6 separate regions of the Homo sapiens genome follow, and regions 1, 2, 3, 4 and 6 are each linked to region 5. Evidence: fine-mapped expression QTL. A gene starts in region 5. Each other region holds a variant in brackets. All regions are shown on one strand. Distances are from middle to middle. Region 1 has its middle 290 kb from the start of CNR1. Region 2 overlaps LOC105377885 (a long non-coding RNA gene). Region 3 overlaps LOC105377882 (a long non-coding RNA gene). Region 4 overlaps LOC105377885 (a long non-coding RNA gene). Region 5 holds the start of CNR1 (cannabinoid receptor 1). Region 6 holds the start of LOC101928936 (a long non-coding RNA gene).

Region 1 (5,077 bases), 290 kb before region 5:
CCATCGCCTGAGTAGTGTATGTTGTACCCAATATGCAGATTTATATCCCTCACCCCATCCCATCTTCCCTTTCTGAGTCTCCAAAGTCCATTATGTCTGCATGCCTTTATGTACCTATAGCTTAGCCTCCACTTATTAGTGAGAACTTGCAGAATTTGGTTTTCCATTCCTGAGTTATTTCACTTAGAATAATGGCCTTCAGGTCTATCCAAGTTTTTTATGGCTGAGTACTATTCTATGGTGTGTGTGTGTGTATATATACATATATAGCTCACATTTTCATTATCCACTCATTGGTTGATGGGCATTTAGGTTGGTTCCATATCTTTGCAATTGTGAATTGTGCTGTGATAAACATGCACGTGCTGATATAAAGACTTCTTTCCCTTTGGGTAGATATCCAGTAGTGGTGTTGCTGGATCGAATGGTAGATCTATTTTTAGTTCTTTAAGAAATCTCCATACTGTTTTCTATAGAGGTTCTACTAATTTACATTCCCACCAGCAATGTATAAGCATTCCTTTTTCACCACATCTACACTAACATCTATTGTTTTTAGGCTTTATTAATAATTATGGCCATTATTGCAGGGGTAAGGTGGCATCTCATTGTGGTTTTGACTTGGATTTCCCTGATTAGTGATGTTGAGCATTTTTTCATAGGTTAGTTTTGGCCATTTGTATATCTTCTTTTGAGAAATATCTATTCATGTAACTTGTTCACTTTTTGATGGAATTATTTGTTTTAGAAAACAATGTTTTTACTTAAGAAAACTAGTTGAGAGATAGGGTTAACATATAATGCATTACATGTTATACATTTTCTTATATAGAATAACAGAAAACAGACTCCTAGTTAGTGTTTTTAGGCAAAATATCTGATGTTTTAGGAGTAGATTATTGACATTAAGCAGGGGATGGCTTTATATTGTTAATCACAATTAATATAAATGGACTAATCTCTGCAGGTAAAATATAAAGATGAACAGGCTGGATTAAAAAAAACAAATAATAATAAAAATAAATTAATAAAACCTCCATCCAAACCCCCCAAACCCAGCCATATACTACTTTAAATAGACCACATACATTACAAGGATATCTAAATATCTAAAATCGAATAATAGAAAAAAGATATATCAGACAAAAAATCAAATGAAATCTGAGGCAGCTATATTAATATTAGATAAAATGGCTACAGGGCAATAATAAAGACAGCCACAATAGAACATTAAAAATTTTTAATTCATCTTAAAGATATAGCAAATCTAAACTGTATGCACAAAATAACATATTGTCAAAATATATAAATCAGAAGTTGACAGAACTATAAAGAAAATGGATAAATTTACTACTATAGTACCCTCTAAAATACTAATAGATCAGGCAGACAAATTAGTAAGCTAAAGAAGATTTTAACTGAACAATTAAGCTTGATCTAATGGACCTTTAAAGAACAATACATTTAATGGTTTGAAAATACACATTCTACATACTAATGTGTCGCACACATGATTTATAAAAACTGAATTATTGCTAGGACAAGAGCAAGCCCAACCAAATAGAAAAGGCTAAAACCATAGGGGGAAGATTGGTAAATCTTGGCTATATGAATAGTAAGAATGGCTGTTTATTGAAAAAGCAGCCCCCAAACTAGGGGAAATCTGTAAGATGTATAACTCAAAGGATTATATAAAGAACACCTAGAAATCAAAATGAAAAAAAAAAATAAAAGAAGCCAAAACAAAGATGGGAAAAGCTACTATCTGATGAACCATTCCAACTGTCCCATAAACCATGAAAAAATGCTCAAACTCGTAATTAGGAAATGTAAATTAAAACCATAATGAAGTGTAATTTCATACCAGCTAGATGGTGAAAATCTCAGTGTTGGTCAATACTAATGGTAAGATGTAAGTCTAACAGGATCCCAAATCCATTGCTGGTGTTAAACAATATGCTATCTGAGGATACATACATAGCTGAAAACACTATAAAGAAGGGCAAGGGAATGAGCTATATAAAATTCAGGATGGTGGTTACCCCTGAGGGGGACGTGAAGGGAGGAGGATGATTATCATTCATTAAACTATGCATGTATGTTTGGTACATGTTTTTGTAGGAATACTGTATTTCACAACTTAAAAAAAAGTTAGTGATGGTAAAGACTGCTATCGGCCTGCACAAAAGACATTTTGGTACTTGGTAGGCATTGCCTTACGGTTTACAGAAAGGCACTTTGCTGTCAGTTTGTCTTTTATCTTCTTTGTGCTTTTTCTAATGGTTTTCAGTACTGGGCCTGAGCTCTAGTCAATTATACCAAACACACACATTAAATTTCAAGACA[C/T]TGTGTTGCCTGCTTGTCACAAACCCAAAGTACCTTGTTTACTGCAAACCTTTTTAAGACAGAGGGACCATCAAGCAAAGACTGTTTAAGCTAACATTCCTGATGTGGAATAGTATGGTCTAATATTATTTAAATCTCTCAAACATTTAGTCAGATTGTGGTGTTTGGAGCTTTTTAGTTTTATCTGGCATGATTCTCCCCATAAAATCATGCTGCTAATGTATTCTAGTGTGTATATAAACTTTCTAAATTATTGTGAAGTATTTGTTTTAGATTCCTTTTAAGACGATTTTAATCTTTTTATAAGCCTTAAGGAAAATGAAGATCAAACTATTTCCCCTTTTCTTGTTGTGATGACCAAAAATATTAGATCCATATCTAGCCAAGCCTCAGTTTTTGTAAAGATCCTGTAGTAATTTATTAAGTCAACAACCAGAAGCTTCCTTTACTTGGCTGTAATGAATCACCTCAAATATCTATCTATGCCTACAGACTCCTAGGACCATCTGTCTTCTATTTGAGTTAAATTTATACTGTCTGACTTTATGCTGTATAGAAGTGATGCTGAAAGCAGCCACGGTTGGCTGCAGGCTTATTCTTGAATCTTTATCCAGGACCTCTGGATGAAGGCATTTCTTCCTTTTCCTTAATCAAATATCTTTAACTCTGTTTTGGATTTCCTTTTTTTCCCTTTGAAAGGATTTTTCTTCTATAATAATTCCCTCCTGTTTCATAGCTCTCTCAATCTCTTCTTCTCCCCCCTCTAAAATGTTTACATCTCACTTTTCTTCAAAAACAAACAACAAAACTTCTGGTGACACCAATGAGCTATTCAACACCAGTTTATTGCATCCCTTTTTTATTTCCCTAGCAACTGTTGGAATTATTGTGAACTTCATACCCCTCCCTCTTGGTCACTGGTGCCACAGCCAACTGACCACTGCTCAGAGCTCATCTCTTATTTCTCTTCCTTTGTGAACTGTGCTTTAACCATGCTGGTCTCCTGGCTAAGCGTGCCCCATGTTTCAGGCATTTGCATTTGCTCTTTCCTCTACCCCAATGCTTTTCCCCTATTGAGTCACATGACTTCCTTTAGGTCTCTGCTCACATATCCCCTTGGTCACCCTATTTTTGAAAACCAAAATAGCAAAACAGTGTCCCCCATCAGCCTTCTTGGATTGTTTATTTTTCTTTACTGGTCGGCATGTATTTACTGGTTGTCTGCAAACACAATGAAAAAGAGAGACTTTGCCCCATTTGTTCCCTGTTGGAACAGTGCATGGCACATAGTTGGAGCTCAGTAAATTCCTGTGTATTGGAGCAGTTAATGGATGTTGAAACTGTCCCATCTAAGGTCTGTAATGATTCTTCTGTTTCCTTGATGTCTGATTTATCACTCTGTTTCATTTGGTTGTCCTTGTAGCACGTCCTTTCTCTCAGCTATGGTGGTTATCATACTCTTTATTCAACCTCTCATGTTCTTCCTCTGTCTTTTCCAAGAGTTCCTTTCAAATTATGGCCTCTTCCAAGTCTCAGTTCTGGACCCTAGAAATTTCTTTTTCAGTGCTCACATCTTTGGAAATGTATCCTATTTTTAAAACTGTGGTGAAAAAACATATAATACTGACCATCTTAATAATTTTATTTTTTTATTATTATTTTTATTTGTGGTAAAATATAACAAAATGTATTATCATAACCATTTTTCAGTGTATAATTCATTGGCATTAAGTACATTTACAGCATTGTGCAACTATAACTACAATCTCTCTCCAGAACTTTTTCATCATCCAGACAGAAACTCTGTGTCCATTAAGCAATAACTCCGGATTCTCCATCCTGCCAGGCCTTGCCAACTTCTGTGGCTGTTTCTCTTCCTCCTTGCCTTCTGACTTAAACAGCCACTGTCTGCAAAAGGACACATCTGTATGAACCTACTTACATGAGGAACCTAGAATAGATAAATTCATAGAGACAGAAAGTAGAACATCTTAATAATTTTAAAGCATATGGTTCAGCGGCGTTAACTCTATGCACAGAGTAGAATCATGCAGTATTTGTGTTTTTGTGACTGATTTATTTCAGTTTGCATAATATCTTCAAGGTTCATCCATGTTGCCACATATGACAGGATTTCCTCCTTTTTAAAGTCTGAACAATATTCCATTGTGTGTATATGTACTATGTTTTCTTCATCCATTCATCTGTTGATGGACATTAGGTGGCATCCACCTGTTCGATGTTGTGAATAATATAAATATCTCTTTAAGATCCTGGTTTTACCATAAAAACCCTAGAAGAAAACCTAGGCATTATCATTCAGGACATAGGCATGGGCAAGGACTTCATGTCTAAAACACCAAAAGCAATGGCAACAAAAGCCAAAATTGACAAATGGGATCTAATTAAACTAAAGAGCTTCTGCACAGCAGAAGAAACTACCATCAGAGTGAACAGGCAACCTACAAAATGAGAGAAAATTTTCGCAACCTACTCATCTGACAAAGGGCTAATATCCAGAATCTACAATGAACTCAAACAAATTTACAAGAAAAAAACAAACAACCCCATCAAAAAGTGGGCGAAGGACATGAACAGACACTTCTCAAAAGAAGACATTTATGCAGCCAAAAAACACATGAAAAAATGCTCATCATCACTGGCCATCAGAGAAATGCGAATCAAAACCACAATGAGATACCATCTCACACCAGTTAGAATGGCAATCATT
Region 2 (5,077 bases), 200 kb before region 5:
GAATTAGGGCTCCTAAGAATGTAAATACTGGCTAGAAAATTATGAATTTCTCCCTGTTTTACAGAAAGGGTACATTTTGTTACCCTTGCCCCTTCAGTACATGAATGTACCTGCTAACTCCATCCTTGGCAGTATTAGGATGGACAACAGATAAAAGCTAGAGGATTATCATTTTTATTTATATTATTTATTAGCAGCCACATTAAACCCTTTTCAGTTTTACTAACCATTTATACTTTGAGTTGTTCATAAAGTCCCAGGATAAAAAATCTTCCTAAATACATTTGCAGACAGAACACACAATTAGGGGAATACTTGACTACTGTAGTCAAAATTCAGATCTTCAGAGAGAAAACAACCCAGCAAATTTTACCAATTTTACATTGACCAGGACCATTTCTGCCTTGTTGTGCTATACAGACACCATTGTCAGTCCCAATTATCCAGCTGCCTAATCAACACCCATAATTAAATTCTCCACACTCACTCCCTTGTATTCAGCACTTCCAGTGACTGTGTACCCACTCCAGAAGAAAGAAAGAACCAGTACAGCTAGACTGTTGCTTATCCCCATCTCAAATCTGTGAACTCTTTAATAAAATGCCCATTCTAAAAGTCTGGTAGTTGGCTTGATGCTTTCAGTGGCATGTGAGGTGGTCAAAAAGCTCAGCCACAAAGTTCATGTAGGTTCTATGACCATGAAGGGTGTGTCTCTTCCTGTTTCTGGGCCACGGTGCTTTTTGACTGACAGGTGAACTGTTGCCCTTACTTGTAGCTTTAAATAAATTGAAGGGGCAGGAGAAGATGGGAAGAATTGTAGGATTAGCCCATGTTTTCCAGAAATTTTTCAGTTACTATCACCAACAAAAATGTATTAAGTACCCACCACTTTAAAAGAAATTCTGGGCAATAGAATAATTTTAAATGATTCTCTTTGCTATGGAGACACTTTTCAAGGAGGAAAAAAGGTAGCAGTTCAAAGTTAGTGGGTAGCATATTAAAGAGAACTGAGCTATTTAAATTAACATCTCGAAGTCCTTCTAAATTCTATGGAGGCAAACCAGAGGACGGTAAATTAAATATTTAATTAATTCATGTGAGAGCTAATAAATCATCTCTAAGCCAAATAAATGATGCATGACTATGGTGTAAGCAAATTGGTTTTACCCATTTTAGGTGCTACGTGTCTATGGCAGCTCCTTTTTGGTCAAGAATACACCCCTCCCCACACACATACACACTCACACACACATACACACGTAAAACTGCTACCAAACTCTAGAAATCATGTTTCTATGGCAACTATAGCCCATTTTATTGCAGTCATCTTTATACAAAATCAGTTTTAGAAATCCACTGTGATGAAAAGGGGCTTCTGTTCATGCTTGTCCAAATGAAGCTTCCTATACTACATGTGATGACATGTCCTAGCCACTGGCTAGGGCTATATCATGTATCAAGAATCATACAGATCTTAGGATTTGATGATTCCTGCATCTGATATGAACGAAAGTCCTCAGGCACAAGAGTTCACAAAGATGACTCCCTTAAATTACTCTATGCCCAACTGTACCATCTACAGGCTGGGAAATGCTCCAAGAGTGGTCAAAAATGCCCCCATGCATTTGAATACATGGGAAGCTTCAGGTCACTCTCGGGGGATCTTGCTGCTTCTATGTACTTGAGTGCTTTTCCTGCCTCCCTGTGAAATCTCTCTGTAAGAGATTTCATTTCCTCCCCAAACCACTGGAGGATCTTGGGGATATGAGAAGTCTGTTGGCAATGTAATTCGGTGTGTTCTTGCATTCAGTGGAATGACTGTGGGGTTTGGGTCAGTGACCCCTCACCCTGCTATTGATTGGATTTGTGACCAGGGATAGTTACTTAACCTCCTTGGGTCTCAGTTTCTTCATCTGCTAAATGAGGGTTTGGACTAGGTGACCTATAAAATCTGATTTGGCTCAAAAAATCTGTGACGTTATGTTTAACAAAATCAAATAACTTGAGCAAGCGAGACTTCACATCTCTGGACGTGATCAGAAAGGAGAGTAGAGAACAAGACAGTCTCCATTCCTACAAAACTAAAGTGAACTTCCAAAAATGCAAATACACATTTATATAATTTGTTGTTTTGTTATTAAGAAGAAATGGAACCTCTAGTCAAATGATACAAAGCTGAGACTATTTTATATTGAGGAGCTTGTGACTGGATGGATGTTTATTCCAGTTCTGCCTCTATGACCTCATTTCTTAGGGAAGACTATA[C/T]ATGGTGAATTTGCAATAGGAAAAGAGCAGGGCAGGAAAAGCTAGATGTGGCCAGAATTTCAACCGGAGAGTTTCAGTAAGCACATCAGAGCTCTCTCTTACCCAATCAGGGAAGCAATAGGAAAATAGGAAGAAAAGTTTACTGTTTAGGTAGTGCTTGGTTCTCCCTAATGGCTCTCAACATGGTTTTAGATGTTTTGAAAGTCCCCTCTTCTACTCCTCAGTTGCCACGAGGCTTCCTGGCATATAACAGTTATGGATCTTTTCTTCACGATTGCAGCCATTACTGTGGCTGTTAATCAGTCTATCTCCCCTTGGTGTCTTTGCTACATGGTGCTGGCACTGCAGAGTTAAAATGTCTCAGCTGCTGCTCCAGTATTTGATTTATGGTGACAGAGGCCACATTTTCCCATCCCAAAGTTAGAAGAACATGGTGTGACAAGTATGTGTGTACTCATGAGGAGAACAGGACAGAATGTTAAAAACTGAGGCTGTCCTGCAATACTTCTGCTATACCAGATAAAATTGGCAGCTTGCCTTTGTTGTTTTGGTGAAAGAGGAGACCAGTGAGTTTTCCAGTTAGATGATACGATTCCTTCATATGCACCCAGGTTCTTCAGACCACTGTGCCTTGAGTCTCTCTTTGCCTTCCAGATGTATACAAAAGTAGAAGTTTTGGAATCAGGTCTGGAGTCAAAATATACTGGAGCCAAAGGCTTGTAGTTCCCTTAAGCACCAAGAGAAAGATGATACTGGCTCATGATCATCACTTCCTCTCATGTTCTGGAATGTCTGCCACCCAGGCTTTTCTTACCTGACTGGTCTCTGGACAGTCTCTAGAATGGAAGTTCCACGAGGGCAAGAAAGGTTGTATATATTATTTTCTGCTGCATTCACAGCATCTAGAACTGTGCCTGGTACATAGCAGGTGCTCAGTACATATTTGTGGAATAAAATGATATTACCTGATCAAAGACTGAACTATACCAAATTCTTTTCACAAATGTGCGATAATATTAGAAATAAGGACACTTTGATCAGAGAAATCTGTGATAGGAAGAAAAAAGATGACTCCTATATTCTCATTAGGTTTCAATTTTGGTTGAATCCCCCTTTATATGTTTGGCAGTATTTAACTATATTTCCTCCTGAATGACAGAATTCTCAGATGCTTCTTGTTTATTTCTTTGATCTAAACAGCAGTACATAGAAAGGGCAAGAGTCCTTGAGGTATAATGTCAAATGTAGCTGGCATGTAAACCCATTTCAATCCAATCTATAGTCATTGTTGCTTTGTTTGGGGCATTTTATAAGATATGTCTGTACAATTTTATAAAAAAATAAATAAAATTGCCACTTCTTCCTTTAAGTTACTTTTGTCCTATTTTATTTTCCACTAAAAAACCCAATTCAGCTTCAAGTAATAATAACAGGGTTCCATTTATTTCAAATCACCAAAACCTCAGTGTTATTTCAGTAATGTTATTCCCAGAAAAATCTTGCTACTCTGGAGTGGCAATTTTATGTTTTTCTAAATGATAAAACAAGTACAACTGCAATAAAATTTATGTATTTGAAGTTTCTAATAATTTAGACAAGGACTTGGGCTAAAGTTTAGTTTTATGATGTCTTGGAAAAAAGGATTTGTTAAACTAATTATTATAGCAAAAAATTTAACTTAAGTAGAACAGTTACTAAGCAACCTAAAAGCACATTAATATTAACAAATATGCAAGTAACACACTCTTATCTATATATTAAACTAGGTTCCCCAAGGAAGTACACTAGACAGTATCATTTATCTGCTTTAAATGACTGTGAGAGCGCTTCCCGCATGTGTGTGATGCTTTGTTGTACAATGTACTAAACCACTGCATGTGATATGTTTTATTGTCACAGCAACCCTGTGAGATAGGCATCATGCCTATTTTATAGAGAGGGAAGCAGTGGCTCAAAGAGGACAATGGACTAGTCCAAGAACACATGACATAGCCAAGCTGGGACTTCATTGAACATAGGTCTTCAGATGCATAATCCAAAGTTCACTCCACTGCAACACAGATGCCGGTAATGGTTTGAATATGCTCTGTAATTTAGACTTTTCATTAATCTTGACATGCCTATTAGTTTGAATTAATGTGTTTTCCCCAAATCAGTGAATAGAGTCAAGAAAAGGGTTGGATAAAGATAAGAAGTATAAAAGCAATAATTTTCATGATTATTAAACAGTGATGATAAGAAACAATTCTCCTACTCAGAGGGGTTTTAGAATATTCTTATCTATATCTTCACAAGTGAACCCTACATTTGGGAAGGACCTCATAGATCAGCAGTCACTTCCAACTCAGGAGAGAAGCCCAGACCATGTGAGTATCTTGCCTTGAGACAAGGAGTAGGAGAATGGTAAGGATGACTGTGGCCTGGCTTTATTTGTTCTTGCTCTCTACAAATGAAGGAGTGCAAAGAATAGGAATTGGTACAGCTTCAGATTCCTCCACAAAGCCTCTAAAAACACTAGAGCAATGCTTTCAAAGTCAGAAAGATAATTATTTTCAACTTAGAATTTCAATACTCAGCCAAACTATCAGTCAAGGGAAAGGGTAGAATAAAGAGATTTTCAGACATACAAAAATTTTATTCTCATATTTTCTCAGGAGGCTCCTGGAGGGCGTACCAAACCAAAAGCAGAAAGCATATCAAGAAAGAGGAAGGGTGCATGAAGAAAACAAAGCATACAAACACAGGTCAGAAAAAAAGATTCCCAGATTTTGGTGAAGGAGGATCCTAGGAAGAAAAGACAACTAGTCCAGAT
Region 3 (5,077 bases), 220 kb after region 5:
CATAGGGGCGAGGCTTTCAGCAAGTTCACTTTCTTCTGAATGTTCAGAGCCAGGGAAGACATCCTTGCGTATGGCAGGACATGGTTAAGTCACGATGATTTGAAGAAGTGTCACACTCTGTATTCTCGTAAACTACCATCTCACTTCTGTCTCATGTCTAAGTATCATGTTCTCATTGTAGCTTTACAACAAGCTCCTGTCAAGTAGGTCACTGGGAAAGGAAAGACATGAGACATAAAGAGGGGCTACAGGATGTGTATTATTTACTGTATTGCAGTGGTCCCCAACTGGGGGCAATTTGCTCCCCAGGGGACATTTACTAATGTCTGGAGTCATTTTTGATTTTCACAACTTGCGGAGAGAGTGCTATTGGCATCCAGTCAGTAGAGGCCAGGTATGCCGCTAAACACCCTACAATGCCAAAGACAGACCCCCCCAAAACCAAGAATTATCCAGCCCAAAATGTATACAGTGCTAAGACTAAGAAACCCTGCTGTAGTGCTGTTCTGTATTTTTTTCACCCCAAGTTCTGCTTTCTTGATAATGAACTAATATGTTGCTGGTTGCATGATCTGTTGAACACAAGGTAGCCGTGTCAAACCCTCTCAATTAACAGACAATCCTAATTAATTTGTTATCTTTTTCCCCCTCATTCATTCTTTATTCATCTTGGGTGGAAGCCCAAGTAGCAGCATATGGATGTCTTACAGCCACCAGCTCACATAAAGAAGGGTAAGCATGTTGCTGTAGTCACGCCGTCTGGGCTGCAATCCAATCAAGTTTCAGTATTTTGCATGGCATTCTCACTGCCTCACTTTGCCAGGCATCGTGGAGTTGAAAAACAAGTCCCAACAGAATTTGCTCAAATATATCTCATCGTGTGAAAGGAATCACAGAGAACTGGATGATGTAATATTGACTGCCTGTTAGTAAAGAGAATAAGCATGTCCGCCAAAGAATTAAGCCCAAGAGCCAGAGATGCAGAGGAAATGATGAGAGGGTTGAAATGGTAAATGAAGATGTCAAGTCATATGATGTGTGGACCCAGGCGCTGCGGCAGCACCTGGAACCTTTATAAGCACCTCTTCCAGAATGGTACAGATTTTCTCTCACAAAATGTACGACTATATATCACACTCTTCTGTTTGATCATCTTTATTTTCGTATGTCTACATGCTACCATCAAGCAACATCGTTTGAGCCAGAACAAAGGCTGCTGCCTTCCTTCAGTTAACAGCAGGTTTTATTTCTCTGCCCTGAATCCTATGTAGTCAAATAAATACTTTTGTCACAGAATGTGTGTTGATGAAGAAAGGGATCTATACCAATGCTCAGTAGATTCTGTGCTGTTTGATTCAGTGTATTTTATACACAGATATTTTTAAACTGCTTTACCTCTGAGAAGTACTATTTAGAGGCGATTTTCAAGTGTACAAGTCTCTTTCCTCTTCAGCACATTTTTGCTGCATGGTTTGTTTCCATCCAATCCCTTGATGTTTTCAGGCAAAAGAGAAGGGCAGGGAGGGAATGAAGCTGAGCTGCTGCATCTCAGAGTTTATTTACAGCTGAGTAAGTAACTGAGCTCTAAGAGCCAGACGCCAATGCAGGAGTGAGCGTTGGAAGATCAGCCTACTTTGTTCTGACATCTTCCCTGCACCGACCCTGCTCACCGCCAAATTGTCATCATTAAAACACCTAGTATTTATGGAGTGACTTAGAGCTTAACACTTTCCCATACTGATTCTCGCTGTAACTCAATGAGAAAGCAGGTATTATTCTCAGAGCTGGTTGGAAGCCTGTGGATGTAGTTTACCACGACCCATTACACCTATTGAATTCGCTGCATGTTAACACTGTCAAGCTTTTTCATAGAGGCGGAACATCATATTTTCTTAAATATTGCCTCTCTTTTCACCCTGGAGTTCCAGCATTCTCCTGTGGTAACTGTATTCCAAATATGCCATGCTTAAAAACTCCAGGGTATATGAGGAAAACAGAAGAAAAAAACCTTTTCTGCAAAATTTGAGCCGGAGGACCTGGAATTTAAACTCAACTCCTAGATCTCTCTTCTTTTACCTCTTATACGCTGCTTTATCTTCACCCTCTGGCCCTGGCCTGATGGTGGAGCCTCTGGCACGTCTTGACAGGCCTTCTCAGTGCTGAGAGCCATCAGCATGAGGTCAGTGCTGGTGGCATGCCGAGCTCTCTGTCTAGCCGTGACTTGCACTGAGGCAGTCACATTTTTAGTCCTTTTTTTTCCCCAAGATCATAT[C/T]TCCAGCTCAACTGCAGCATGATAAATACCCAGTGTAAACATTTTAGTCACCCCAGAGAGTCACCTCCCTCCTTCTGTCATCATTAGTTAATCACCAGATATCAATCAGCCACTTTCGTTTATAGTAAAGCAGATTTCAAGGCATGTTGAGAGCTTGAGAGAGAGAGAAACTCAGCTCATATCCTAAAGGAAAGAGGCTTCAATCATAAATTGGATGAAGGACTGGGCACAGTGGTTCACGCCTATAATCCTAGCACTTTGGGAGGCCAAGGTGGGAGGATTGCTTAAGGCCAGGGGTTCAAGGTTACAGTGAGCTACAATCATGCCACTGCATCCCAGCCTGGGTGACAGAATGAGACCTGTCTCTGAAAACAACAACAAATTGGATGAAGGGAAACATCGAAGTATGCGCTGAATGTGTCCTGTACTCCAGGACCTGGGTTGGGTATTTTATGTGTTCAGGGTTATTCAGTTCAGGGCAGCCATGTAAAAGCTTACGTTATCCTTAATTTCAAGAGAAGGTGATAGATTTGTCCAATATCACCCAGCAATAAATGGCCTGCTCAGGACCAAGCCAAGTTTTTTTGTTTCTATCCCTTCACGCTGCTTCTCAAAATTAGTGCACTCTAGATGGGACCCAAACCCCCAAATCCCAGGAAAATACGGCAAAAACAGCACCTTTGAGCCCTGGGTTAAGTTTTTACACACACATATCTTGACAGGATGACTGTCCATTCCTACTTCTGAAGACAAGAAATCTCAACTTCTTGTGTCACGCCAAAGGACAACATGTTAATTCTGGGCTACCCAATGGGCAAGTAGTAAACTTCCTTGCCTAGAGCGAAAAGCACTGGTCTGAAAGTTAAGAGATGTCCCAGGTTTGCCCTAATTATATCCCAGCAATTCACTTCATCTTTGTGATGTTGGTTTCCTCATTGACCAAACTGAAATGAACTCAGTAAATAGTTTTTTAGTGTCTCCTGTGTGCCAGGCAGTGTTCTAGATGCTGGGAACCTAGCAGTGAACTAGACAAAGTCCCTTCCTTCATTGACCTTTCATTCTACGGGGGAACAGAGGCCATAGACCAATATATAAAGGCAATGATTCCGGAGAATGGTAAGGCCTTTGAAGACAATAAACAAGGTAAAATAATAGAGAAGCATGTGTTGGGGAAGGGGTAGATGAGGGTAGTGTTTCTTTAAAGTGGCCAGAGAAGGTTTCTTTGAGTAGGAGGAATTTCAGTTGATAGCTGTATGGTGGGGAGACAGTCATTTAAAGACCCAGGGGAAGAGTGTTCCACAGAGGGAACAACCAATGCAAAGGTCCTGGGGTAGGAACTACGTGATGTGTTCAAGAAACAGAAAGGTCAGTGTGGATAGAACCTAGGAAGCAGAGAGGGCACACTGCAGTGTGGTATAAGATGGTAGGGGACCTTGTGCGCCACCGTTAGGAATAATACTTGCCTTCCTGGCCTGACAGCATTATGGTAAGGCTCATATTTGATACAACTTTAGATGGGAAAGTCCTTAAGGCAGTTACAGCCTAACCAAAGATTACGTGCTGCAGAAATAGGTGGTGTACATTTGGTATGTGTTTCCTAAGTGTGTTATATGTATTATATGTTGCCAAATTCTTTACTAGTGCTGCTCATGTGCAATCTTTATTAAATCATTCTTAGCAATCTTTATTAAATCACTCTTAGCCCTCAGATTGCTTTGAGGAGTGGGATTGCTCCATCTGGATGAAGCCAGGGATGTTCGGCCCCTTCTCTTCCGTCTAATACTGTTTTCTGAATATGGAGGGCAGAGCACGAACTGTAGGCTCAGGGAAGGGAAGTTACTCTCAGTCTCTAAATCCATTGTAAGCAAGTAGCAGGGCAAAAGCTGCACTGCTTGCTTTAGGCAAGAAACAAACACATACTCCTGTTTTATCTTATTTATGGATTTTTTTAACAAGATACATGTAGCTGGTAATTTGTAGAAATAAAAACCTCCTGAGAGGAGATTACTTCTCATATCCTGTCTTCTTATGAAGTTAAAATGCATATGGAGACAAGAAAACAGGCAGGTTGCCCTGTGTACCCACGAAGGAACACAAAACAGAACCCGGGCTGCTGGGAATAGCAACAGAGCTCTGGGAGCAGGGAGATTCATTAAAAATGTAAAATGAATGCAATGATTGCATGTGGTTGTCTTTGGGGGCATTTTGTTTTAGACCTCATATGTGTTGGAAAACACTACTACAAATGCCATAATTATTTTAAGATATAAAATTATTTAAATTGGCCAATGAATGCAGCCCCTGACACCAGTCTGCATAAATCTGGATGTATTTGTGTGTTCCTGCAGAGTGGATGGGGTTTAGAAGCAGCTTTATTCATTAGCAGCATTCTCTTCACTTTCTTCTCCTCCTTAGCCCATTCGAAGACACAATGTCCTAAACTGCATGACCATCTAGAGGCAAAATACACCTTCACATACATTAGCTCAATTAATTATCATAACTGATATATGTTGCCATTTTCTGTATTTTACCCACAAGAAAGCTAAACTCAGAGAGGTTAAGTGTCTTGCCTAAAATCACACAGCCAGAAATGGCATATTTACTTGAACCCAGGTTTTCTGTCATCAAATCCTCCCTTCACTATTTTATGGCAATGGAAGAGTACCAGTTAGCAGATTGATCTAAAGTGATGAGTCATGTTAGGAGGGAGAAATTTTTTTTTCATTTGGGTGTCCAGTAGTTTCCAGGAATAAAAGAGAATCTGTGTGGAAGAGCAGTTCTGTATATCGAAGCCTTTGCTTA
Region 4 (5,077 bases), 170 kb before region 5:
TGAAAGATTATCAGAATAATACTCAAAAACAATAGTCTAAACATACATGTGTGGACATGTAAATATACACAACAAAAGCTTAAAAATTAGTAAGTACATTTTGAATTTTTATACTTTTAAAAGCTTGAACTCCATTTGGCTAGTAGTTGTGAAAATATTACATTATAAATAAGTCTCAGGGCAAGTAAACAAAAGGTGAAATATAGTATTGCCTTTGTATATATTTGCGTAGTGTTTTCTAAATGAGAAATGTGGAATTGAAAGGAAAAATATAAAGAAACAACACAATAATCTAAGCAACACTGCCAAGAGTTTTTTTCCATGTTACAAACATCCACCGTTCTTCATCCCCATGCCCGCCCCATTGTTTATGCTCTTCGAGTCCTTTGATCGGGACTTGTTGGCTGGTAGTTGTCCTTTTTGTTAGCTGGCTTCATGGTAGTTGTAAGTGGTCCTTTTTCATTGCTTTGTCTTGTATTTCACTTAACAGAGAAAATGGTGAGCCCTTCTCTAACACTCTGTCTTTACCACATGCTTCTATTAAAAAAAATACTTTTTTAAAGCCTGGGAATTTTCCAATATTAATAACTATTAATTAGTTTTAAATGTCTCACATCTCAAAGAAGTCCTGAATTTTACCTACATAAAAATTCATTGCATAGCTTGAGTAATTACTTACTGCTTTAAACCAGAGCAAAAAAACTATGAGTTTATGGTTTCTTTGCATACACGTTAGTATCTCTGCCTTTGTACCCTCTGACACACACATGCACACACACACACATGGATTTTCCAAACCAAAAAAAGTGAAATTAATTATGCTGTCCTCTGGTGCTACACATGAAATTTCTTTATCCTTGTCTATTTTGATGAATTTGTTGCTAAAAATGCCTTTGTATTATTCTTTTGCTTGTGTTTCACTTTTATAAGTAGGTATTATTTACACAGCTTTAAAAATATTGCTATTAATGTTATTATTTACATTGCTTATATAACATTGTTGAGTATAAATCTAAAATTATCATGTTGACTTTCTTAAACTGCTTGTTAAGGTGTTATATTAATTCTTATCACAAAAATACTCCTGTATCATATAGAAATATATTTTTTAAATGCTCTGATAATGAAGGCATGATAGCAGGAATATAATACCCTTAACCTGGCAATTCATCACCCAAAAAACAATTTTCCCAGATGATATATTGCCAAGATTCATGCTGCTGGATGTGCATAAAGAAGAGAACACGTATTGTTCTGCAACCACAATCTAGTATTACTAAACAATAAAAAGACAGATGTACCAACAGCATTTGGATTGACTATAATTATTTAAATTATTTAAAATATCCTTAAATAACTTCTCCCTAAACTTATTTTCGTTTGAGTTTTTGAGACTGCAATCCTTCCTCAAACTCTTTATGTATTGCTTCTCATCAAATATTAATTTGAGTTCATCCCAATTTTCAGCTTTTCAATGCATTGCATTTCAATTATCCCACAGAAAGCCCTCTCAGTATGACTCAAAGTTGTAAACCAGCATTCTTTAAAACCCATGTAAATCTACCTTTCACTCAAAAATACTATGGAATGGCAGAATTTCAGAACAATCACAGCTGTGCTAAAAACGATGGGGTTTAGCAGCCACCCACTGCCATGGCCACATGTATAGGCAGAATGCTTGTCAGATCTCCCTGAGTAATGGCTTGGTTTTCATACTTAGGATTAGGTAATGTTCTTCAATGAAATAAATTTATGTTTGATATTTTTTCATCCCCTCCAAACATAAAAGCTATAAATAGCCACAACCCTTTGAAAATGGAATGGCCTCCTATGACCCTCAGGCTGAAATTTAAGAGTTTTCTGCCACTGATTTATTCTCATTCCTGTGGAAACAAGTCACCAGGAATGAGTCTGCTGTCATTATTTGTGATTATTTTCAAGCACTTACACTGGTCCCGATGATCTGCTGTTGTGTCCATGGAAGTCTGAAAGGAAATGAGCATTAGTCTTGTAGAATGAACTCAAATAACTGTCAACTGCTAGGTTGAAAGTTATGTATTTCCCAAGAAATCTGTTTTTTAAAAATAGTATATATTTTAATGTTTCTAATTATAAAAAGAATATATCACATAAAAACTCCGGAAAGATGCATAAGAAACTACAAATAGCTATTACCTAGGGAGAACTAGAAATGAGGCATTCAGGGGTATAGAATGAAAACATTGTCATTTCTTTTTAAATGTTTGTTATGGAAATGTTTTAACATAGAAAAAATAGAGTAGTCCAGTGAATCCCCTATGCCCGTGATCCATCTTCAACACTTATTAACTCACGGCCAATCTTGTCTTATCTATACTCCTAACACCTACTGGATTGTTTTTTATTTATTTATTTATTTATTATTTTTTAATTTTATTATTATTATACTTTAAGTTTTAGGGTACATGTTCACAATGTGCAGGTTAGTTACATATGTATACATGTGCCATGCTGGTGCGCTGCACCCATTAACTCGTCATTTAGCATTAGGTATATCTCCTAATGCTATCCCTCCCCCCTACCCCCACCCCACAGCAGTCCCCAGAGTGTGATGATCCCCTTCCTGTGTCCATGGGTTCTCATTGTTCAATTCCTGTCTATGAGTGAGAACATGCGGTGTTTGGTTTTTTGTCCTTGCAATAGTTTACTGAGAATGATGATTTCCAATTTCATCCATGTCCCTACTAAGGACATGAACTCATCATTTTTTATGGCTGCATA[G/A]TATTCCATGGTGTATATGTGCCACATTTTCTTAATCCAGTCTATCATTGTTGGACATTTGGGTTGGTTCCAAGTCTTTGCTATTGTGAATAGTGCCGCAATAAACATACAGGTGCATGTGTCTTTATAGCAGCATGATTTATAGTCCTTTGGGTATATACCCAGTAATGGGAGGGCTGGGTCAAATGGTATTTCTAGTTCTAGATCCCTGAGGAATCACCACACTGACTTCCACAATGGTTGAAGTAGTTTACAGTCTCACCAACAGTGTAAAAGTGTTCCTATTTCTCCACATCCTCTCCAGCACCTGCTGTTTCCTGACTTTTTAATGATTGCCATTCTAACTGGTGTGAGATGGTATCTCATTGTGGTTTTGATTTGCATTTCTCTGATGGCCAGTGATGGTGAGCATTTTTTCATGTGTCTTTTTGCTGCATAAATGTCTTCTTTTGAGAAGTGTCTGTTCATGTCCTTTGCCCATTTTTTGATGGGGTTATTTGTTTTTTTCTTGCAAATTTGTTTGAGTTCATTGTAGATTCTGGATATTTGCCCTTTGTCAGATGAGTAGGTCGCGAAAATTTTCTCCCATTTTGTAGGTTGCCTGTTCACTCTGATGGTAGTTTCTTTTGCTGTGCAGAAGCTCTTTAGTTTAATTAGATCCCATTTGTCAATTTTGGCTTTTGTTGCCATTGCTTTTGGTGTTTTAGACATGAAGTCCTTGCCCATGCCTATGTCCTGAATGATAATGCCTAGGTTTTCTTCTAGGGTTTTTATGGTTTTAGGTCTAACGTTTAAGTCTTTAATCCATCTTGAATTAATTTTTGTATAAGGTGTAAGGAAGGGATCCAGTTTCAGCTTTCTACATATGGCTAGTCAGTTTTCCCAGCACCATTTATTAAATAGGGAATCCTTTCCCCATTGGTTGTTTTTCTCAGGTTTGTCAAAGATCAGATAGTTGTAGATATGCGGCGTTATTTCTGAGGGCTCTGTCCTGTTCCATTGATCTATATCTCTGTTTTGGTACCAGTACCATGCTGTTTTGGTTACTGTAGCCTTGTAATATATTTTGAAGTCAGGTAGCGTGATGCCTCCAGCTTTGTTCTTTTGGCTGAGGATTGACTTGGCGATGCGAGCTCTTTTTTGGTTCCATATGAACTTTAAAGTAGTTTTTTCCAATTCTGTGAAGAAAGTCATTGGTAGCTTGATGGGGATGGCATTGAATGTATAAATTACCTTGGGCAGTATGGCCATTTTCACCATATTGATTCTTCCTATCCATGAGCATAGAATGTTCTTCCATTTGTTTGTATCCTCTTTTATTTCATTGAGCAGTGGTTTGTAGTTCTCCTAGAAGAGGTCCTTCATGTCCCTTGTAAGTTGAATTCCTAGGTATTTTATTCTCTTTGAAGCAGTTGTGAATGGAAGTTCACTCATGATTTGGCTCTCTGTTTGTCTGTTATTGGTGTATAAGAATTCTTGTGATTTTTGTACATTGATTTTGTATCCTGAGACTTTGCTGAAGTTGCTTATCAGCTTAAGGAGATTTTGGGCTGAGACAATGGGGTTTTCTAGATATACAATCATGTCATCTGCAAACAGGGACAATTTGACTTCCTCTTTTCCTAATTGAATACCCTTTATTTCCTTCTCCTGCCTAATTGCCCTGGCCAGAACTTCCAACATTATGTTGAATAGGAGTGGTGAGAGAGGGCATCCCTGTCTTGTGCCAGTTTTCAAAGGGAATGCTTCCAGTTTTTGCCCATTCAGTATGATATTGGCTGTGGGTTTGTCATAGATAGCTCTTATTATTTTGAGATACGTCCCATCAATACTTAATTTATTGAGAGTTTTTAGCATGAAGGGTTGTTGAATTTTGTCAAAGGCCTTTTCTGCATCTATTGAGATAATCATGTAGTTTTTGTCTTTGGTTCTGTTTATATGCTGGATTACATTTATTGATTTGTGTATATTGAACCAGGCTTGTATCCCAGGGATGAAGCCCACTTGATCATGGTGGATAAGCATTTTGATGTGCTGCTGGATTCGTTTTGCCAGTATTTTATTGAGGATTTTTGCATCAATGTTCATCAAGGATATTGGTCTAAAATTCTCTTTTTTGGTTGTGTCTCTGCCCGGCTTTGGTATCAGGATGATGCTGGCCTCATAAAATGAGTTAGGGAGGATTCCCTCTTTTTCTATTGATTGGAATAGTTTCAGAAGGAATGGTACCAGTTCCTCCTTGTACCTCTGGTAGAATTCGGCTGTGAATCCATCTGGTCCTGGACTCTTTTTGGTTGGTAAGCTATTGATTATTGCC
Region 5 (5,077 bases):
ATGCTGACCACCACGAAGGTATAGATCAACATGTGGGAAAGTGCTCCTTATAGAAGGAGCACCACCAGGGTGTGTCAGTGTTGTTTAGCTGAGTGATGTTGAACAGCTCTGCCACTCCAACAGCTCACGCCCTCCAGCTACAGGGGAGGGTGGTAGCACCCAAGTGAAATCCTGTGGCCTGAAAGCATTCTAGGAGTCCAGCTCCCCCAGGTTTCTTGTGACTGAAGATGTCCTTATCACAGTCAGAGGAAGCGCTGCCTTGATCCTTTCTTTTAATTACTAGCAGTCATTTGAAACTGAGCTGCCAGGTGGAGGAGAGACTTTGAAGTTATTGTCATCTGGCCTCTTGGGAAATCAGAGTCTGCGAGGTCATAAGGAGAGAAAATTTTTGCAAATATTTCCTACTGCCAGGGGTGTGAGGTGAAGGGAAAATCTAACAACCACGACCCCTAAAAGAAAAAAGCAACAGATGTTGAAGCCTCCTCCCTTTGAATCTTGCGCTGGAGCTGTCTCTGCCATGGAGGTGGGCTAAAAATGCCTGTGAGTAGAGCCTTCCCCAAGCAGCAGGGTTAAGGCTCAGCACTAATCCCACATCTACTATCTATCTCCCAGTCATTCTTCCATCTATCGATGGGTCCATCAGAACTTTATTGATAACCTTTTCTAACCACCCACCTAGTAGGACTTAATCATTTCAGCGGTGGACTCTCTCTCTCAATGGAGTCAAATGGTCATTTGCTTGACGGAAATACTTCTAGTCTAAAGCAGTCTAGGGGGATTTTCAAAAACTGCACTAGTGCTCTGCGGGAAGCCTTTGTACGATTTGGCCTGACGTTTCCAAAACGGTTTTACAGCCTTCCCTCCTCCAGGACCTTGAACTCAACAATCTTCCTTCTTTCCCTGAGAGGCTCGCTTTCACAGATTCTCACCACGTAGTTCAAATATAGGGTCCAGATATAGTACGGTTGCTGTTGGGGTCTGATCAGGGGCGGGAAGACCTGGAGGTCGGTAAAACGGAGCGGTGCGGGATGATGTCTGGGAACACCGGCAAGGTGTCATAAAATGAACGCCAAGGCGGCCACAAGAGGACGGCCGGGAACCGAACCCAGCGCCCAGCACGGGGCCCTTGTGGCCGACGTGACGTGGCTCCGTCAGGTGGAAACCGTGCGATCCTCTCCCGATCCAACTCACGAGAGATAAAGATGTCTAAATAACCACGACCGCCGCCGCACACCCTGCAGGGCCCCGGGGGCGGAGGGGAGGGGAGCGCCTCCTCGGCAGAAGCGGCGGCCCAGGCTTGTTTGGAGGTTCGCAATTCACCATGATAAATGTAAAGACCAATTAAGGTTTGATCCGTGCACACAGGAGGCAGACGGCGGCTGATAGTGGAAACAATTAACGAGCATGTCCCCTAATTCCTGCCGCGGCTGCTGAGCACACCGCGGCTCCCCAGGCGCCCGCCGCTGCCGCCCCCGAGTCCCAGAGCCCCCAGTCCGGCCCTGGAGTGGGGCGTCCTCCTCCAGCGAAAAGGTGCGAGGAGCGGGGCCCCGGGTGGCCGGGGAGGGGGCGCGCCGGGCCGGGAGGCGCGGAGCCAGCCGCCTACGGAGCCCAACTGTTTGCATCGGGGACCGGCGGGCGGGGCGCGCCCGAGTGGTCTCGCCGGGAAAGGGCGGCGGGCGCTGGAGAAGGCGCCTGGCGCGAAGCTGGGCGGCGCCCCGAGGGCGGAGGACAGGTGGCCGCGCGACCGCAGCCAGGTAGCGAACGGCTCGGGGGCTGCGCAGCGCGGTCCCAAAGCTCAGCCCGGCCCCGGGCCCAGCTCGCTGCCGCCTGCCACGGGAGCGGCCTTGCGCGGAGGGAGGGGGCGCGAGACCGCACCCCCGGGCCCGGCGCGCCTCGGCCTCTGGGCTCCCGCTCCCCTTCCCCTTCCGGCTCAGCCCGCTGCCCCAGACGTGACCCCCGCGGAAGGTGTTGGCGATGCGCGCTGCCCGGGAGCGTGTGATTAATGGCCCCGAGGTCGTGGGCGGCGCATGCACCAGCCCCTTCTTGGCCTGGTCAGGGTGTGAGGGTATCCGGGAGCACAGCGAGGTCATGGCAGCGGGGGCCTCCGGGAGCGCGGCGGCGGAGGAGGAGGAGGAAGAGGAGAAGTAGGTGACGCGGGCCGAAGAGGCTTGTCCCCTCTGGCCCCAGGGCTGGCGCCGCGGCGGGTCCCCCGCCCCAAGCAAAGTTTGGGGCTACGGGCGCTGCGCTCAGGTCCCTCCCCGCGCAGTTCCCTCGGCGGGGTCTGTGCCGCCGCCGCTGCCAGGGCAGGACAAAGGCTCATTAACACGTGATGGGACCGCGCTTCATAAATGGGACTGGAGCGAGAGGGAGCCAGAGACAGCGCGAGCGGAGGGAGCGGCAGGGACTGCGCGAGCGGGACGAGGCGACGGGCGCCCGGGCTGGCGGAGACGGGCGGCCCCACGCCGGGCCAGGCGGGGCTCGCGGGAGGACCCAGTGAAGAGCCTGGGAAGGGGCGAGGCTCGCCGGCGGTCGGAGCAGCGGGGCGCCAGTCCCGGTCGCTGTCGCGGGCGGGCGCTGGAGACCGGGACGCCGGCGCTCGGACGGACTGACTTGCTGACCGCCCGCCGGAGGCACACCCCACTCCACCCCACCCCGCCTCGCCAGCAGCCCGGCGCCGGCGCCGCCTCCCGCACGCTACTCCCTCTGCCACCCCTTCCTTCTCCACTTCTTTTCCGCCTCCGCCTCTTCTTGTCTCCCGCGGCGCCAGCGCCTTCCCTTGGCCCGGGCGGGGGCCTCGGCTCCCTGCAGAGCTCTCCGTAGTCAGTGGGGGATATTTCGTTCTAGCGGACAACCAGCCCCTGAGCTGGGCGAGAGGTGCCAAGGGAGCTTCTGTCCCGAGGACCAGGGGATGCGAAGGGTAAGACCTGGCAGAGTTGCGTTTGGAAATACTTTTTCCGCCTCCCGCCCCCTCGGGTACGACCAGTGTGGTCCCCAAGTGTCCTTCGTGGAGTTCTTATTCCGTGTGAGCGAATCGTGCGTCGGTGTTTACTTAGCTGTATGGCCCCAGCCTGTTAACTGTGATCTGTTCTACTTCTGGAGATTTCTACCATTTACTATTTATTGAATGTGTGTGCACCTGGCTCTGTATGCACTGATGTCTGTTTGTAGAAAATGGGTAATTGTGCATGTTTGAAAAACGGGCGCTTGAGTTGGTGCTGAATGCCTATAAACCATGTTAGCAGCTAAGTCTTCCCAGGGAAATACATCGATCTCTGCTGCAAGCCTAGAAACTGACTAATGTAAAATAGTAAATGTCATATAAAGAGATGTATGTCAAATAATAAACTTTTGATAAAAAGCTACAGGAACCACTTCTCTTTGAGGAAAAACAAATGTCCATGTAACTAATACCTAAAATTGAATGTTGATGGAACCGTTTAACTCAGAACTAGCTGTTAGATGACTAAAGTTAATGTTGCATTTTTAAAAGACATTTCTTGTTAAGGCTTACAAATCATAAACGGATCACCTCTCAAATAAAAATATGTTTGCTGTAATAGACATGAGAAACTGTCATTTGGTCATTTGGAAGTTTAAAAGCAACATGCATGTTTCTGATTTTAATAGATTGTCTCTCAGATATTTAAAATTGAACAGATAAAAAAACAAAAGAAATGTTTAGTAACGTATTAATCATTTTGCCTCCCATCTTTTTTTATTTTCCTCCAAATAAGTGCTATTCTTGCCTTTGTTGTTGATTTCCTGATATAGTAAGCCTCCTCGGGCATGTAATCCAATAAGAGATTAGAACAGATTTACTGGTTTTAAAGGTGTTGAAAGATATCTCTGTGGGTCCCATAACTTCTCCTCATTTTTATTACCAAGTTAATATCTTTTGAACAATGGGGGAAATGCAATTTCTTAGAGGAAGCTTAGCGGACACTGAGTATTAGTGGGGTCACCACTGACATCAATCTATTTTGCAGAATATTGAGAAGCTCAGAGCAACCAACCTTTAAGGTTCCCATAGGACTTTATGTGATTTAAAGTGTTGCTTTTCTAATCCTACCCTACTGACAGTTTGCAAGGGAAGATACACTAATTGATTTTTCTCTGTCCTTTTTTTCCCTGGTACTCCTCCCCCTCCCCCGCTCTCTAACTCAGTTAAGAGCAATTTTATAAAAATAAAAGGCCATTTATAGTTTCTTAAGTGAGACAAATTACTTTCAGATTATATCCATACATGAGCAGAAGACATGCACCTCCAGAATTTTAAACATTGCATACTACAGGCACTTATTTGTAGGCACAATGGCAGTTACCATAGTGGGGCAAGAGACTTGATGTGGGACATGGTTTTAAAAAACTAATCCATTTTAGCTTATCAGGAGAACTTACTGTAAACCGACTCTTTTTGTTTCAAAGATGTCTCCCACTCCAGGCGAGGAGCGCTCTTGGCTGAGGTATGTATCAAGTGTCTGATGGGGAGAGGTCTCATTGTGTTTCTCAGTGTCCATGGGGGTACAATGATGCCACAAGGTGGAAATACCCAATTCTGGCCTTTCACAAATAAAATTACTGTGCTTGCATACTCGTTGTTAGGAAAGCAAATTAGATATTCATGCCCCTGAATTTTAATAACATTAATATATGTATGTAAAAAGAATGTTATGACTAGAACCTTAAATAAGCCATAAGTGATTATTATTTAGTGTGTAAAGTTTTAAATTCTGATGAACACCAGGTCTCACATTGAAGTAGTGCTTGGCTTTGTTTGTTATCCACTGTTTTCTGTCTTTTTCTGTTACCCATTTCCCAGTGGACCATGTTCCTCTCTGTCTTGCCTGTGAGATTGCTCTTCTCTAATAAGCCTAGCTGCAGGATCAGTGTGTTCTTTTTGGCATTTCAAAATGGTAAAATAGTGAAATTGTTAAATGTTACCAAGATGAAACTGCTGGGAATGAAATTCTCAAAAAGAACCACTGTATTTGTGGCATATTTCAGCCTCTTCCAAAAGAAAACTCTTTGATTCGGTTTACCTATTTTCCCAAGAAGGAAGCAGCCCCATTGATTGTGT
Region 6 (5,077 bases), 370 kb before region 5:
TTGCAGGGGGTCTGCTTAGACATGGATCAGGCTCGCAGAACGGAATAAATAAGGCGGTGACTGACTTCAAGACATTGAGAACAAAAGCCCATGGCACACAACAGGAGCTAGTGAGTTGCTTCCAAAACCATTTGGACAGTTCCCTTTTGCCTCCAGAGTTATTTTTCCTTTTGCTCTCCTCTTTATTTATTTTCTTCCCCCATTCTCCCTTTTCTGTCCTTTCCGCCCTCCCAAGCTGTCAACAACAGCTCCCCTAGACTCTGCCTAGCACAGAATTTTGCTGACTTCTGAGAAATTCAAGAGGCAAACCTGCAGGGCAAAGAAAGTGAGTATAAATGTATACTGAATTTCATAGACAGGGAAAGGGAAACCCACCCTCACCTCCTGCAACTGGAAGTTAACACTTCCAGCCAAAGAGAAATGTGAAAATGAAGCCTTCACAGTATTGCAGACAAAGGAGAATGGATATCGTGCTTTTAATTGGTAAATGTGACACTGTCTCCCATGAGGATTGGAGTGGGATGGTGGTGACGGAGAGAGGGAAATGGCTCAGAGTAAAAAAGAAAAAATCAGACAGGGCGATTTTATGTGAAAAATGTAACTGTAGATGACATGATCACTTTCTTGGTACAGGAGGGATTAAACCACTTAGAAAGCATCTGTAAGGAGAGGTGGGATGGGAATACCAGGTCAAATGCTGCCCGAGGCACGTTTGAGGTCAGAAACATACTGGTCTGGGTCAGCCCCCAGTTTGCACATGGCAGCTTCCTCTAACTACGAACATAGCAGCTGTCTGATAATCACTGGCTATTGATTGACTAATTAATTAAACATATTCATGGTGTCATTTTAGGAAACTTGGGAAAAGAAAGGAGTGTTGCAGGGAGATCTGAAGCAAAGAAGAGCAGTTGGGAAGAAGCACATAGAATCTGTCTCCCTGCGCTCTGGGAAACGATTGCTCTCCTTTTGTAGCTGTAGCCACCACCATGCATCCCCTTCAAAGGGGTTTCCTCTGCTGTTGAGCAAAGTGGCCTGCCCCCCATTTCCCCAGGTTCTGCTGGCTAAGTTCACTTCTAGCCCCTCCATGCCCCTCTACCTCTGCCTCAGCATGTCCATGACAAGGACAGAAGCAAGCTGTGGTCTCAGGCCCCAACTGCCTCCCTCCTCTCCCACATTCAGAGGCAGTACCTACCATGGACAGCGGCTTTTGTCAGCGGCTGCCCACACTGGAAACTGAAGCATGACACCTCAAGCCTAAAAACCTTTCCTCATTAACACTTCCTCCTAAAGCACACTGCTGGCATCATCATAGGCATGCAAGCCATTTGCAGCCCAGGTGAATGAGGAGTTTTGGCTCCTCTTTATGTGAAACTATCTTTGTCATAAGGCTGGCTTGACAACAGTGAGATTTCCCAGTGAGGCTGTTCCCAGTTCCATTATGCCACTTGTCTTTGTAGCAAAAATGTGTTGTGCGCTTATTACATGCTTATGGGGCTAAGTGCTGAGACTAAAAAAGGTGAACCAGATCGCTTCCTGGCCTTTAGAAGTTCAGAGTCCAGACACCAATTCAAATTATTGCAATACCAATTCATGGCACCAGGTCTAATGTCGGCTCTGTTTAACAGGCTCCAGCCCTTCCAGGGCCTAAGATGAGAAAGGAGGACAAGCACTCCAGGCTGATGGGTGCCCTTTCTCCTTCCTCGAGACAGTTGATCTTATTTTTAGTTAATTTTGTCACTCTTAACCTTATTTTGCCATCTTGAAATTTTACCATCAGCTCCTCCCTTGCCTTTGCTCCCTCACATACAATCACCAAATTTGTTGGTTCCACCTCAGACATGTTTTTGGACTCTCTCCCATATCCTCCAACCCCTGGCCCCTCTTCCTTCCTGGCCTTGAAAGCTGACAGTGGTCAAGTGCCCAACTGGTCTCCTTGCCCCCAGGCTCTCCCTCCTCAGTCCTTCTGCCATCCTGCCTACATGGTTATTTTCCTAAAATACAAATCAGATTGCATCACTCCTCACTTAGAGACAATCACCGACTCTCAGCTTTCAGCGTGACTGGGCTTTGCACCATCTGCAGACACTTGGTGGAGGAGGGGGTATTAATGGCATTGCCTGGCCTAGGGAGAAATGTGAATGGAAGGGAAGGGGACTCAACCTCAGAACAGGATGGGCAACGGCAGGGCTCCCATCATGATTGCACATTGAGACCACCTGGGAGAGCTTTGATGCCCACAGATGCCAGAGCTGTTTCACCTCCCCACCACCCCCAGCCATTGGATTTGAGTCTGAAGGTGAGATCTGAGCACCTGTAGATTTATAAAGCTCCCTGGGATGAGTCCTGTCACAAGCCACTGTGCTGGGGACCTCAGCAGGCTCTGCATTTTGGGATGGATTATGTGCTTTGAAAAGGCACCCTCACATCAGCTCCACCTCATGGAAAGGGAGGTACCCTTGTCTCTCCATGGTCTTTTGGCTCATGGTCCCAAACCAAACAGTGACTGGTGGCCCATGAGTCCATCCCAGCCCTGATTTTGGCTCTGCAGCTCCCCAAGCTCTATCCATCTGATCTAATTTACCAAAAGCCAGGCTGTTTCACAGATAATATAATGCTTAACCAATTCCTCAGTCTCAGCGTACTCTGTTCTCTATAGGGAGTTAATCTACAACATTTTAGTTGTTTCCTTAAAATAGCATAGTGGTATATTTTATGAGCACGACTTGAACCAAACACAATCTTTGTTTGCTTCAGGCTTGATTTGGAATACTTCTTGATGTTCTGGGTTTTGCAATACTTCAGCAGTATTAGAAAATATTTAGATTTGCTTCTAGTTAACTAGGTGCTCTTTTAGGGAGGTGGGGATAAATCTCGTTGATCTCGTAGTTCATTAAAAAGAGTATTGTCTTTTCCACTCAGGGTTCAGCAAATGTGTGTGTGTTTGGAGTGGGGGTGGTTTTATTTGATTATTGGCATTTTAATTTACTTCTTATTAGGAAACACACGTTTCCTTTGATGGTAACCACAACAGTGCTGCTACACTAAACTACTCCATGGCTACAAAAAATGACAAAGTGT[C/T]GGAAGCCTCCTATTTTCTTTGAGGATGGTAGATAAGCCAAAGACTTTTAAATTTTGTTTTGTTACATAAGTCTCTGCTACTGGCCTCAGGCTAGTCCAAACAGCCTCATTATTCAAGTCAGGGCCAGCCAGGCTTTAGGCGAGGCTGCCTGGGTGGAAACGTTCTGCTCCTTCGTCTCCGTCCTCCGCACTTCATTGTGCACCGCCCCCTGCACGATCCAAGCCTAAAAATACCCCAGTTGTCCACAGAGCCTCGTCTCTGCTGGCCTTGCCTCTTAATGCAAGAGGCAAGTTCTGTCTTCATTGCCTTGCCCCTTCCCCCACCTCTTTCACCCATTTTTCCCACCTAATAATTATAAAGAAAACCATTAGCCATGAAACCTTCCCCTCCCCCCTTGCTCTTTTATCTACTTAAATATCCTTGACTGCGAGACATCGAGTACAGCACATTTATTAATTTTTAATCTGTCTCTTCTTGTGGTTACTGTGTTCCAGGGACTGAAGGACCTCGAACAATGGTCTCTGAAACCTTGGGCTGAACCTCTTTTGTTGTAGGCAGGGAGGTAGCTGAGGGCATAATGGAGTCTGATCAAATAAATATCTGTTATCTGAAATAGCCTGTTCAAGGTGAATATGGATTTTCATCACATTAAACTCAAGCTGGTGAGACAGGGTTTTGGGCCTGAATATTATTAGCAAACAGAAAAATAAATTTTGAGAGATGATAAACTGAAAGAATTATTCCTCGTGGGAGAGCTGTTCTGGAGGCAGCCCAGAGGACTCTGAGGGCAGACAGCTGCAGAACCACAGGGCCCCCTCATTGCTGGATCAGAGGAAGGAAGTCCAGGGAGGGCCTTATGGAGAAGCTCTTATGTGCTATTGGTGTTCCTGGGGGGCCTGCCACAACCCACTTCTCCTTTTGCAGTGCACACTCTCCTTGGAGGATCTGATCCACTCTACCCCTAACTGTCTGTGCCTCCCACAACTGGTTCTCCAACCTGCTTTCTCTTCTGAGCTGCAGAACCACATATGCAGTGGCTCCTGGGAATCCCCAGGAGGGAATCCCCAGGTAGTTCCAGAACAGAATTCACTCTCCAGACATCCCAGTCCTGCTTCAAGCATGCCCTTCTCCTGAGCATTCCTCTAATAATGGATGGTACCATTGCCTATCCATATTCATAGGCTGGGGACCTCGAAGCCTTCCTTGGTTTATTTTCTCCACTATTTTGCCCAACAATTTGGCTGTGAAGACTCCTAATTGTGTCTCAGACGCATCTCTCGAGTCCATCTGAACCCTCTGTTGTAGTTCATTCATTTTCCTTCCCTTGCCTGGAAGGGCAAATGCCTTCCAGCCGAGCTTTTCAACCTGTACACATGTTGCACTCTGGCCTGTCTGTACGCTACCATAAAGTTCCACAGCACATGTCCCATCAGGCCACGGATGAAAAACCTCCCAGGCTCTTAGAAGTCTACAGAATAAGGTCTAAACTCGTCTTCACAGCTTCTCAGACTCTTCACAGTCTGGTTCCAACCTGCTTTCTTAGCCTTATCTTCCAGCCTCAACCAGCTGCGCACTCTGTTGTCTACTTGCTGAGCTCACACAGCTCCCTAGATTCAAGTTTCTCCTACCTGTCACTTGAATTCGTACAATGGCTGATATGGTTTGGTTCTGTGTCCCCACCCAAATCTCATGTCAAATTGTAATCCCCACATGACAGGGGAGAGACCTGGTGGGAGGTAATTGAATCATGGGGGTGGATTTCCCCCAGCTGTTCTCGTGATAGTGAGTGAGTTCTCACAAGATCTGATGGTTTAAAAGTGTGGCACTTCCCCCTTCATTCTCTCTTTCCTGCTGCCATGTAAGACATGTCTTGCTTTCCCTTTGCCTTCTGCCATGATTTTAAGTTTCCTGAGGCCTCCCCAGCCACGCTGAACTGTGAGTCAATTAAACCTCTTTTCTTCATATGTTACATAGTCTCACGTAGTTCTTTATAGCAGT

The links. PIP is the estimated chance that this variant, and not a neighbour inherited with it, causes the effect.
Region 1: its variant is fine-mapped to the expression of CNR1 in whole blood (TOPMed, PIP above 0.99).
Region 2: its variant is fine-mapped to the expression of CNR1 in tibial artery (GTEx, PIP above 0.99).
Region 3: its variant is fine-mapped to the expression of CNR1 in nasal epithelium (TOPMed, PIP above 0.99).
Region 4: its variant is fine-mapped to the expression of CNR1 in fibroblasts (GTEx, PIP 0.99).
Region 6: its variant is fine-mapped to the expression of CNR1 in whole blood (INTERVAL, PIP above 0.99).

The regions. Positions count from the first base shown.
Region 1 is chr6:88,449,077-88,454,153 of GRCh38, reverse strand. No RefSeq gene overlaps it. Among named protein-coding and RNA genes, the nearest start is that of CNR1, 290 kb to the right of the region's middle. The variant C/T (reference allele first, on the strand shown) is at 2,347.
Region 2 is chr6:88,363,080-88,368,156 of GRCh38, reverse strand. All of the region lies in intron 2 of LOC105377885 (a long non-coding RNA gene), which reads left to right. Among named protein-coding and RNA genes, the nearest start is that of CNR1, 200 kb to the right of the region's middle. The variant C/T (reference allele first, on the strand shown) is at 2,266.
Region 3 is chr6:87,941,915-87,946,991 of GRCh38, reverse strand. LOC105377882 (a long non-coding RNA gene) reads right to left here. Exons shown (of 3, transcript XR_001744246.1): 3 at 2,949-5,077. Among named protein-coding and RNA genes, the nearest start is that of SPACA1, 100 kb to the left of the region's middle. The variant C/T (reference allele first, on the strand shown) is at 2,273.
Region 4 is chr6:88,336,677-88,341,753 of GRCh38, reverse strand. The region is part of intron 2 of LOC105377885 (a long non-coding RNA gene); the gene reads left to right. Among named protein-coding and RNA genes, the nearest start is that of CNR1, 170 kb to the right of the region's middle. The variant G/A (reference allele first, on the strand shown) is at 2,761.
Region 5 is chr6:88,163,643-88,168,719 of GRCh38, reverse strand. CNR1 (cannabinoid receptor 1) reads left to right here and starts at 2,373. Exons shown (of 2, transcript NM_016083.6): 1 at 2,373-2,917. RefSeq lists silencers at 1,247-1,446, 1,517-1,956, 2,017-2,696.
Region 6 is chr6:88,534,428-88,539,504 of GRCh38, reverse strand. It overlaps LOC101928936 (a long non-coding RNA gene), which reads left to right and starts at 136. Exons shown (of 3, transcript NR_110867.1): 1 at 136-325. The variant C/T (reference allele first, on the strand shown) is at 3,079.